Regions from separate parts of the Homo sapiens genome. Here region 1 is linked to region 2. Evidence: fine-mapped expression QTL. A gene starts in region 2. The other region holds a variant in brackets. All regions are shown on one strand. Distances are between the middles of the regions. Region 1 has its middle 4.7 kb from the start of PRSS21. Region 2 holds the start of TRAP1 (TNF receptor associated protein 1).

Region 1 (5,370 bases), 910 kb before region 2:
TTCTTTTCTTTCTTGAGATGGAGTTTCACTCTTGTTGCCCAGGCTGCAGTGCAATGGCATGATCTTGGCTCACCGCAACCTCCGCCTCCCGGGTTCAAGCGATTCTCCTGCCTCAGCCTCCTGAGTAGCTGGGATTACAGGCATGTGCCACTACGCCTGGCTAATTTTTTGTATTTAGTAGAGATGGGGTTTCACCATGTTGGTCAGGCTGGTCTTGAACTCCCGACCTCAGGTGATCCACCCCCACCCCTGGCCTCCCAAAGTACAGCCGTAAGCCACCATGCCCGGCCTCATTTAGTTTTCTTAAGATCATTATTTTGAATTTATTTCTGACAGTTCACTGATTTCCTTTTCCACTGGGCTCTGTTACTAGACAATTATGTTCCTTTGATGCCAGATTTTCTTGCTGCTTCATGTTTCTTGTGTCCTTGCACCGATGTCTGTACACCTGGTGGAACAATCGCCTCTTCCAAAGTTTCTAGAGTGGCTTTCATAGAGATAGACTTTTACCTGCAGTTGGGTCTTAGTGTGCTGGTTGGAAAGGGTGTGGTGGCTGTGTTTCCAGATGGGTGCAGTGATATGGTCTCGGTGCAGCTCTTCAGCTGTGTTGAGCATCAGCAATAACTGTGGGTGCCTTGAGGCCCAGGCTGTACAGATTTGTGGCAGTGGTTGTTAATGTCCTTGATGTCAAGGGCTTTTGGGATCCTCCTATTCTTATTTTCCCCACAATGGGGACATGCAGCCAAAGGGGACCTTTTAGTGTCAAGCTTGATATGGCTCACAAGACAATGCAGTGGCACTGGCTTTCGTTTGCAGGTGCTTGGAGTAGCTGTGGGGCTGGGGTCCTAGGCTCAGAGCCTGGCGTACAAATTGAGGCAAGGCCTGGGTCACTGGGTGCAGGCTTACTCTCTGTGGCAGGGTTGAATGTGCGTTGCCCACAAAGCCAGGATCTGTACTTCTGACGCACTCTCTAGCAGGTCAGGCCCAGGGGGCTGGGTTGTAGCTGTGATTCTACTGTGGGGGGCAGAGCAATGACCCAACTCTGGGGAAGATGTGGTGCTCTTCATGTTTAAACCTGGGGATCAGGGTATGGCTGCCACTCCGGGGCCTGAGCCAATAGGGCTCAGTATAACTCAGGGTTCAGGGGCTCAGCGTAACTCAGGATTCAGGGGCTCAGCGTAACTCAGGATTCAGGGGCTCAGTGTAACTCAGGGTTCAGGGGCTCAGCGTAACTCAGGATTCAGGAGCTCAGCATAACTCACGGTTCAGGGGCTCAGCGTAACTCAGGGTTCAGGAGCTCAGCGTAACTCAGGGTTCAGGGGCTCAGCGTAACTCACGGTTCAGGGGCTCAGCATAACTCACGGTTCAGGGGCTCAGCGTAACTCAGGATTCAGGAGCTCAGCATAACTCACGGTTCAGGGGCTCAGCATAACTCACGGTTCAGGGGCTCAGCGTAACTCAGGATTCAGGAGCTCAGCATAACTCACGGTTCAGGGGCTCAGCGTAACTCACGGTTCAGGGGCTCAGCGTAACTCAGGGTTCAGGGGCTCAGCGTAACTCAGGATTCAGGAGCTCAGCGTAACTCAGGGTTCAGGGGCTCAAAGTAACTCACGGTTCAGGGGCTCAGCGTAACTCACGGTTCAGGGGCTCAGCGTAACTCAGGGTTCAAGGGCTGAGGCTCCATGCAGTAGTGACTCTGAACCCCGAGAAGGTAGGGCTTGGCAGTATCCCCGACTTCATGAAGCCAGATACACTGGCAGAGTGGCAGAGCACAGCTGTCATTTCAGTCCTGTTGGGGAGGGAGGTAGCAGGAAACAGCACATTCGAGGGGAAGGCAGGGAGCAGCGCAGGGAGACTATCTCTATCTCTAGGAGGCTAATCCAGGGAGGCAAGGTGCTGGAGCTGGCCCAGAGGGCGGTGTCTCAGCTGGAGATGGCCCACAGCAGGGTGTCTCAGCTTAGCCACTGCTGAGCCAATGTTTCCCTGGGATGCGAGCTACTACATCAGGTCAACCCCTGGATTCACAGCTGCTCAGCTCAGCCAGGGCAATGATCTCTTGGGGGAAGTGGGCTGCTTTAGCTTAGGCCTGGGGAATGAGACTATTCTGGGTAGCCCTGGCACCATTTCCTGGAATGCAGCACGCTTCTCCAACTTCAGCTCTGAGCAGCCAAGGTGCTGTTTTCCCGGGAGGCAGGTTGTGGCTTCAGCTCTGGCCTGAGCGGAGAAGGGGGAAGGTTAGGTGGAGCACCTCCACCACTGCTTGGCCCCAGGAGCAAGGGTGTGACCGCTGCTCACGGCTCAGTTTAGGGGTGTGAAGCCACCAGGCTGAGGTTGTTCAGTGGTGGATTAGTCTCAGGGATAAAGGGCAACTGTGGCTACTCAATCCCAGGGCAAGATATGCTCTGGCTGTAGTTCCAATTCACCGCTGGCGCAGTGCGGTAGCCACGTGACCACAGGAAATGGGCTCACTGTGGGCTCCTCTGCAGGGAGCTCAGCTGTGCGGCCTCAGTTAGCCCCCTTGCCTGGGCTTAGTGCCTGTGAGGACAGGGGACGCTAGTGGTGAGGGCTATAGGTGTCCAAGGTGCTGGTGGGGCTCCTGGGATCCCCTGCTTACCTCCTTGCCTCATTCCCAGCTGATCCTGGTTGAGGACTGGGGTGCAGGCCCAGTGTTTCCTTCTGTTCTTCATGCGGCCATCCTGAGTTTCTCTGCTCACCAGGTTTCTGTTACTCCTCTAAAGCACTCTGGTGCTCTTCCTCAGTTATTTTCATTAAAAGTTAATTGTTGGCCAGGCGCGGTGGCTCACACCTGTAATCCCAGCACTTTGGGAGGCCAAGGCGGGCAGATCATGAGGTCAAGAGATCGAGACCATCCTGGC[C/T]AACCTGGTGAAACTGTCTCTACTAAAAATACAAAAAAAAAAAAAAAAAAAAAAAAGGGGGCATGGTGGTAGGTGCCTGTAATCCCAGCTACTTGGGAGGCTGAGGCAGGAGAATTGCTTGAACCCGGGAGGCGGAGGTTGCAGTGAGTTGAGATCACGCCATTGCACTCCAGCCTGGGCAAAAAGAGCAAAACTCTGTCTCAAAAACAAAAACAAAAACAAAAACAAATATTGTTTATTCATTGTTCTGGCTGTCTTAGTGAGGGGAAGGAGGACAAGAGAACTAGGGGGGCCATGGATGGGTGGCCCGCACCTGTAATTCCAGCACTTTGAGAGACCAGGGCAGAAGGATCGCTGGAGGCCAGGAGTTCAAGACCAGCCTGGATAACATTTTGCTCTACAAAAAATTTAAAATAAAAATGGGCCGGGCGCGGTGGCTCATGCCTGTAATCCCAGCACTTTGGGAGGCCGAGGTGGGCGGATCACAAGGTCAGGAGTTCGAGACCAGCCTGGCCAACATAGTGAAACCCCGTCTCTACTAAAAATACAAAAATTAGCTGGACGTGGTGGCACACGCCTATAGTCCTAGCTACTCGGGAGGCTGAGGCAGGAGAATCACTTGAACTCGGGAGGCAGAGGCTGCAGCGAGCCGAGATCGCCCCACTGCACATTAGCCCGGGCGACAGTGAGACTTAGTCTCAAAAAAAAAAAAAATAAAATAAAATAAAAGTAAAAATAAAAACGTAGCTGGGTGTGGTGGCCCGCACCTGTGGTCCCAGCTACTTGGGAGGATGAGGTAAGAGGATTACATTGAGCCTGGGATGCTGAGGCTGCAGAGAGCCAAGATCTCACCACTGCCCTCCAGCCTGGCCAATAGAGGGAGACCCTGTCTCAAAAAATAAAATAAAATAAAATAAAGAAAAAAAGAAAAAGGAAGGAAATTGTGACACATACAGCGATATGGATGAGCCATGAAGACACTGTGCTCAGTGAAATAAGCCAGTCACAAAAAACGAACACCGTGTGATTTCACACATATGAAGTACTTAGAGCAGCCAAAAGCGTAGGGACAGAAAGCAAAACAGAAGTTGCCAGAGACTGACAGGGCGGGAGCAGAGCCTCACTTTAGTTTTGGCACCTGGCTCTGGTTGTGACGCCTGCACCGTCTCCCTGGAGGGGCTGGTCAGAGCTGGGCTCCCACTGACTGATGTGCCAAGATGAGGCCCCCACTGTACCTCTGCTCCCACCCTTCTGCACCACCCACCCAGCTCCCATCCCTCTGCACCACCCACCCAGCTCCCACCCCTCTGCACCACCCGTCCAGCATTCCTCTGACTTTCAGGGATAGCAGGGGCCAGGCACAGGGAGTGGGCAGCGGAGTCCCTCTCAGGAGGAGCCTCCTTCAGGGAGGTGGAGGTGGAAGAGGCCAAGCCCTTGGCCAGCACAGCTCTCAGAGGCAGGAGCTTGGAGGTGCCACAAAGCGGGCTGTGTTCTCGCGCTAGCCCAGCCTAAGGGCACCTTTCCATGTTTTGTTTTGTTTTGTTTTTTGTTTTTTTTTTTTTTTTAAACACGGACTCTCGCCCTCTCACCCAGGCTGGAGTGCAATGGTGCGATCTCGGCTCACCGCAACCTCTGCCTCCCAGGTTCAAATGATTCTCCTGCCTCAGCCTCCAGAGTAGCTGAGATTACAGGTGCCCACCACCATGCCCAGCTATTTTTTGTACTTTTAGTAGAGACAGGATTTCACCATGTTGGCCAGGCTGGTCTCGAACTCCTGAACTTGTGATCCATCCGCCTCGGCTCCCCAAAGTGCTGGGATTACAGGCTTGAGCCATGGCACCCGACCTGTCTTTCCATGTTTTGCTGGCAGTTCAGGGGCCTTCTTTCTAACTCCAGGCTGACAGGGTTTGGCGCCCAGAAGGAGAGTCACTTGGGCCAGGACTCCAGAAGCACCAGCTGAGGTTGAGGGGACTTGGTGGAAGGGATAGTTAGCAGCCTGGCCAGAGGGGCGCCAGGACTCACCCAAATGCACACTGGAGGGGATGTTCAGATGGCACGAGAACGGGGATCACACATGGTCGTTCACACACGTGCACTTGAAGATGCATGCACACACATACACCCAGACACACACACCCGCCCAGCCTCTCCTGCACGCAGGGGGCATGCACACACGAGGACGCTCCTCACCTGCATGCCTGACCTGGGGAAGAAGCCCACCTGGTGGGAGGCACCCTCCTCCCACCCTCCATCTGCCATGGCCCAAGTGCTGGCCCCGAGCCCGTGCCCAGGGAGACTCAACACAGGCCCTTTGTCCCTTGGGATCAGGGCTCCCAAGAGAGGGATTTACTGAGCATTTATTTCCTGCCCCGGGCACGCCCCAGTCCTCATTCTGCCAGGAGAAGGGAACAATGAGGCCTTCTCCTGCCCGCAGAGGTGGCTCCGGGCCGGCTGGCCCTTATGTGTCAGGAGTCGGGTTAGGACCACAAGTCCC
Region 2 (5,370 bases):
ATCGCGCCACTGCACTCCAGCCTGGGTGACAGAGCAAGACTCCATCTCAAAAAAAAAGAAAAAGAAAAAGAGATAAAGAAACAGAATTAAAATGTCCCTGGGCTGAAAACTGACATATTTTCCAAATGGAAGGGACAGTGCATGATACAAAGCATGAATCACAAACACCTGTGGACGCGAGACCACAAACGACAAAGAGAAAAAATCTTAACCTCCAAGGGGGAAAAAACCCGAGTCAGCTACAAAAGAAACGAGAACCAAATTAACAGAACAGTTGGCCAGGCACGGTGACACACGCCTGCAATCCCAGCATTTTGGAGGGCAAGGCAGGCAGATCACTTGAGGTCAGGCACTGGAGACCAGCCTGGCCAACATAGTGAAACCCCACCTCATAAAGACAAAAAAATAAATAAATAATTGATCAGACACTGGTGCTAGAAGAGAGCAACAGCATCACTTTCTGAGGGAAAATTATTATTATTTTTGTTGTTGAGATGAAGTCTCACTCTGTCGCCCAGGCTGGAGTGCAGTGGTGCAATCTCAGCTCACTGCAATCTCTGCCTCCTGGGTTCAAGCGATTCTCCTGCCTCAGCCTCCCAAGAAGCTGGGATTACAGGCGCGCGCCACCACACCCAGCTAATTTTTGTATTTTTAGTAGAGACAGGGTTTCACCATGTTGGCCAGGCTGGTCTTGAACTCCTGATCTGCCCACCTCAGGCTCCCAAAGTGCTAGGATTACAGGCGTGAGCCACCGCGCCCGGCCACAAGGTATCTTTTATAGACCACTGGTTTTGAAAAGACATAAGATTCAGCGTTGAAGAAAATACCTTTGGAATAGGCAGTCTTGATGCCTGCTAAAGGGGATATAAATTGATAAGGCCTTTTTGGACAATTTGGCAGTATCTGCTAACATTTCAAAAATGCATAGGCTCTGAAATATCAATTCTAAAATTCTAATTATGTAAGGCTAAAGAAATACCGCACGTGAACAAATATTTAAGTACTCACCCATTCTATGCAGCATTGTAATAAAAAGTAAAACCTGAAATAACCTTTATTGCGTCCACTAATAGGACAATGTTTAAACAAATGACACGTCCATCATACAGAATACTGTGTGGTCACTGGAAGGCACATGGACCTGTATACACTGACATGAAAAGATGTGGAAAGAATGCTGGGAGCGTTAAAATTTTCTGAAGTACAACGTAGCACAATGCATACATGGTTTAGGCTTTTTAGAATAAAAAATACTTATACGCAGACATTTATATTTACACGTATAACACTGTGTACAGCCCCGAAGCAATGCCGAAACTTTCACTGTTGTTACCTCCGAGTGGGGACTGGGAAAGCAGAGGTTAGGGTCGTTCTCTCTGTTTTACAAACATTTATTGGCGCATCCATCAATTCCAGGCCCCGAGGACACAGCTGCGTCAACGACATCGAGTCCACCTGCTCTGGGGACCCGGATGACTGCTATAGGTTTTGTTCACTGTGGCGTCCCCAGAACCTGCACGGCGCCGGGCACTGAGCGGGCGCTCACATGTGCGTCCAATGAACGAATTAACAAATGAACCCTCAGTGCGCTACTGGGAGGCGGGGAGGGGTAAAGCACGATCCATGGAACTAGCACGATCACCCCGAGTGAGTCCATTCCCCGCAACATGCACCCGCAAAGACTCCGCGCTCCGCAGCGGCTCCACCTGCACGTGCGCTACCTGACTGGACCGAAGCTCCAGGAGGGACGACCCCGCAGCCGCTCCGCCCGACCCCGCGACCCCCCAAGACCCAGCCTCCTTCAGGGCTCCCATGGGCGGGTGGCGAGGGGAGTCCAGCCGAGGAAAAGGCAGCCAAGCTGGAGCTGGCGAGGAGCGGAGCGAAAGTAAACGCGTCTGCCGCGCTTGGCCTCGCCGGACCTCCCACGCCTGTGAAGCAGGTGCCGGCGCCTCGCTCCCCGGAGCACAGGGACGTCCCTGCCGTCTCCGTGGCCCGGCCCGCCCGCTGCCCGTCCAGCCAGGACGCCCTCACCTCCCGGCACGGCCGCCAGCGCCGGCGCCCGCAGCAAAGGCCGCAGGCGGCGGCCCCACAGCAGCAGCGCCCGCAGCTCGCGCGCCATGTCGTACTCCCAGAGCGCCGCGCGCAGCCACGCGGGACCGTACACGATGGGAAGGGGCGGGACGGGGCTGCGCGGGGCGGGGCTTCCTCGGGCGCGGGGCGGTGACGTCACGGCGGGCGCCGGGCTGTCCGGGCAGCTGCCTGCTCGGGCGCGTGGCGGGGTACTACCCGTCTCGTGGACGGTCGGGCCTGGGGGTGGGACCTCCGTGACCTTGGATCGCGTTGTCAAGGGCGACGGGCCTTGCGCGCGGAGGTGGGGGAGGTGGCCCCGCCGCCCCCGGCCCACGCTGGCCGGCTGCGCCTAGCTGTGCGCATTCCTGGAATGGGGCGGATGTCAGTATCCACGCGAGGGTGTGGAGGCGACGCTGGGGAAGAAGCAGTTCCCGTGTCTGCGACCTTTGTGAATCCCGGCCATCCGTCTAGGCCGCTGCAAGTCTCTTGCAAACCAAGACTGGACAAAAAGCTAAAGCGAATGAGGAAGGGGATTCCAGGCTTGACTGGCTACTACTCCAAAACCTGAACCCAGTGACCAATACCACCAGGAAAACTGCGGTTATTCGTTTATTCCACTTCTCTTGTCCTTGTCGAGAAGAGTCAAACTCTAAAGTATTTAGAAGGTTATTCTGAGCCAAATATGAGTGTGCATGGAGGGAGGCACAGTCTCAAAAGGTCCTGAGAACTTGGCCCAAGGTGCTTGGGTTACAGCTTGCTTGGTTTTATACATTTTAGAGAGACATAAGACATCAGTCAATGCATGTAAGACATAGGTTGGTTCCGTGTGGAAAGGCAGGACAACTCAAAGGGTGAAATACTTAGAGGTCATAGGTGGATTCAGATACTTTCTGATTGGCAATTGGTTAAAAGAGTTGAGTTCTGGTTGGGCGCGGTGGCTCACGCCTGTAATCCTAGCACTTTGGGAGGCTGAGGTGGGCGGACTGCCTGCGGTCAGGAGTCCGAGACCAGCCTGGCCAACATGGTGAAAACCCATCATCTCTACTAAGATACAAAAAATTAGCTGGGCAAGGTGGCACGTGCCTGTAGTCCCAGCTCCTGGGGAGGCTGAGGCGGAAGAATAGCGTGAACCCGGGAGGCTGCGGTTGCAGTGAGCCGAGATCGTGCCACTTGCACTGCAGCCTGGGCGACAGAGCTGTGACTCCGTCTCAAAAAAAAAAAAAAAAGAAAACAAAAAAAAGAAAAAAAAGAGTTGAGTTATACAGACCTGGAATCAATAAAAAGAGTGTCTGGGTGAAGATAAGGGGTTGTGGGCACGAGCACGGTGACTCACACCTGTAATCCCAACACTTTGGGATGCCGAGGTGGGCGAATTGCTTGAGGTCAGGAGTTGGAGAGCAGCGTGGGCAACATGGTGAGACCCTGTCTGTACCAAACATACCTGTACCGGATGTGGTGGCGGAGGCCTGTAATCCCAGCTACAAGGGAGGCTGAGGTGGGTGGATTGCTTAAGCCCAGGAGGGAGAGGTTGCAGTGAGCCAAGTTCGTGCCATTGAACTCCAGCTTGGGCAAGAGAGCCACACCCTGTCTCAAAACAAACAAACAAACAAACAAACAAAAAACAGGTTGTGAAGACCAAGGTTCTTATTATGTAGAGGAAGTCTCATAGATGACCACCCTTACAGGTAATAGATGGCAAATGTTTTCGCAAATATTGTTTATTCAGACCGTTAAAAATTCCTAGACCCTCAGGATCAGGAAAAGACCTGCAAAGGTGGCCTGGCATGGTGGCTTACGCATGTAATTCCAGCACTTTAGGAGGCCAAGGTGGTCTTATCACTTGAGGTCAGGAGGTTGAGACCAGCCTGGTCGGCATGGCAAAACCCCATCTCTACTAAAAATACAAAAATTAGGCCAAGAGCAGTGGCTCACGCCTGTAATCCTAGCACTTTGGGAGGCTGAGGCGGGCAGATCACCTGAGGTCGGGAGTTCGAGACCAGCGTGACTGACAGGGAGAAACTCCGTCTCTACTAAAAATACAAAAAATCAGTCAGGCGTGGTGGCGCATGCCTGTAATCCCAGCTACGCAGGAGGTTAAGGCAGGAGAATCGCTGGAACCCAGGAGGTGAAGGTTGCAGTGAGCTGATACCGCACCATTGCACTCCAGCCTGGGCAACAAGAGTGAAAGTCTGTCTCAAAAACAAAAAAAATTACCTGGGTGTGGTGGTGTGCACCTGTGTACAGCTGAGGCTACTCGGGAGGCTGAAGCAGGGGAATCGCTTGAACCCAGGAGGCAGAGATTGCAGTGAGCCAAGATCGCACCACTGCACTCCCACTCCAGCCTGGGCAACAGAACAAGATTCCGTCTCAAAAAAAAAAAAAAGTCCTTTGTAATGTTAACGCTGGTCAGTTGTGCCTCATTTCCAAGGGGTGGAGGGTGTAATGAGGCAGGACCCACCCCATCCTTCCAATTATGGCCTGAACTAGTTTTTTAGGTTTCTTTGAAATCCCCTTGGTGGAGAGGAATGATCCATTCCATGGGTTGGGGGACTTATAATGTGTTTTTGCCGGCTGGGCACGGTGGCTCACGCCTGTAATCCCAGTACTTTGGGAGGCCGAGGCAGGCGGATCACCTGATGTTGGGAGTTCAAGACCAGCCTGACCAACATGGAGAAACCCTGTCTCCACTAAAAATACAAAATTAGCCGGGCATGGCGGCACATGCCTATAATCCCAGCTACTCGGGAGGCTGAGGCAGGAGAATCGCTTGAACCCGGGAGGCAGAGGTTGCAGTGAGCTGAGATCGTGCCACTGCACTCCAGCCTGGGCAACAGAGTGAGACTCTATCTCAAAAAACAACAGCAAAAAAAGAATTTGTTTTTGCTTTACACCTTGCTGGAGGTTAGAGACTAGTTGGAGATTCAGACCATACACCCTGGTCTAACATTTGGTCCAGACCCAGCTGCAGCCTCATAATGCCGATTTCCCGGCACCTCCTCAGTCCCGGAGTGGGGCCCAGGCGGCTCCACTGAGGTTCCCAGGTAATTCGGAGGCACACTGAAGATTCACTGCCACACTCTAATAACTGTACAAAAATAGCGACTCCAGCTCGTGGCACGTGCTGCAGAGAAGCACAGGAGCCAGGAGAGTGACCTTCAGTGGGGCCGGGACAGAGCTGGGTGGAAGAGGATGTGTCAGGAAACGCTTCCAGGTGGAAAGTGGCAAGTTCCCAGCTTAAGCAATTGAGAAGGGAATGGAAAGAGGGTGGGCAGATTTGGGTGGAAGAGCAGGGTCCTGTCA

Evidence for each region.
Region 1: its variant is fine-mapped to the expression of TRAP1 in ovary (GTEx, PIP above 0.99).

What each region holds. Positions count from the first base shown.
Region 1 is chr16:2,809,879-2,815,248 of GRCh38, forward strand. No RefSeq gene overlaps it. Among named protein-coding and RNA genes, the nearest start is that of PRSS21, 4.7 kb to the right of the region's middle. RefSeq lists enhancers at 1,458-2,188, 2,189-2,918, 5,061-5,370. The variant C/T (reference allele first, on the strand shown) is at 2,877.
Region 2 is chr16:3,715,390-3,720,759 of GRCh38, forward strand. TRAP1 (TNF receptor associated protein 1) reads right to left here and starts at 2,135. Exons shown (of 18, transcript NM_016292.3): 1 at 2,032-2,135. The coding sequence starts at 2,119. RefSeq lists silencers at 1,736-1,855, 1,876-2,485.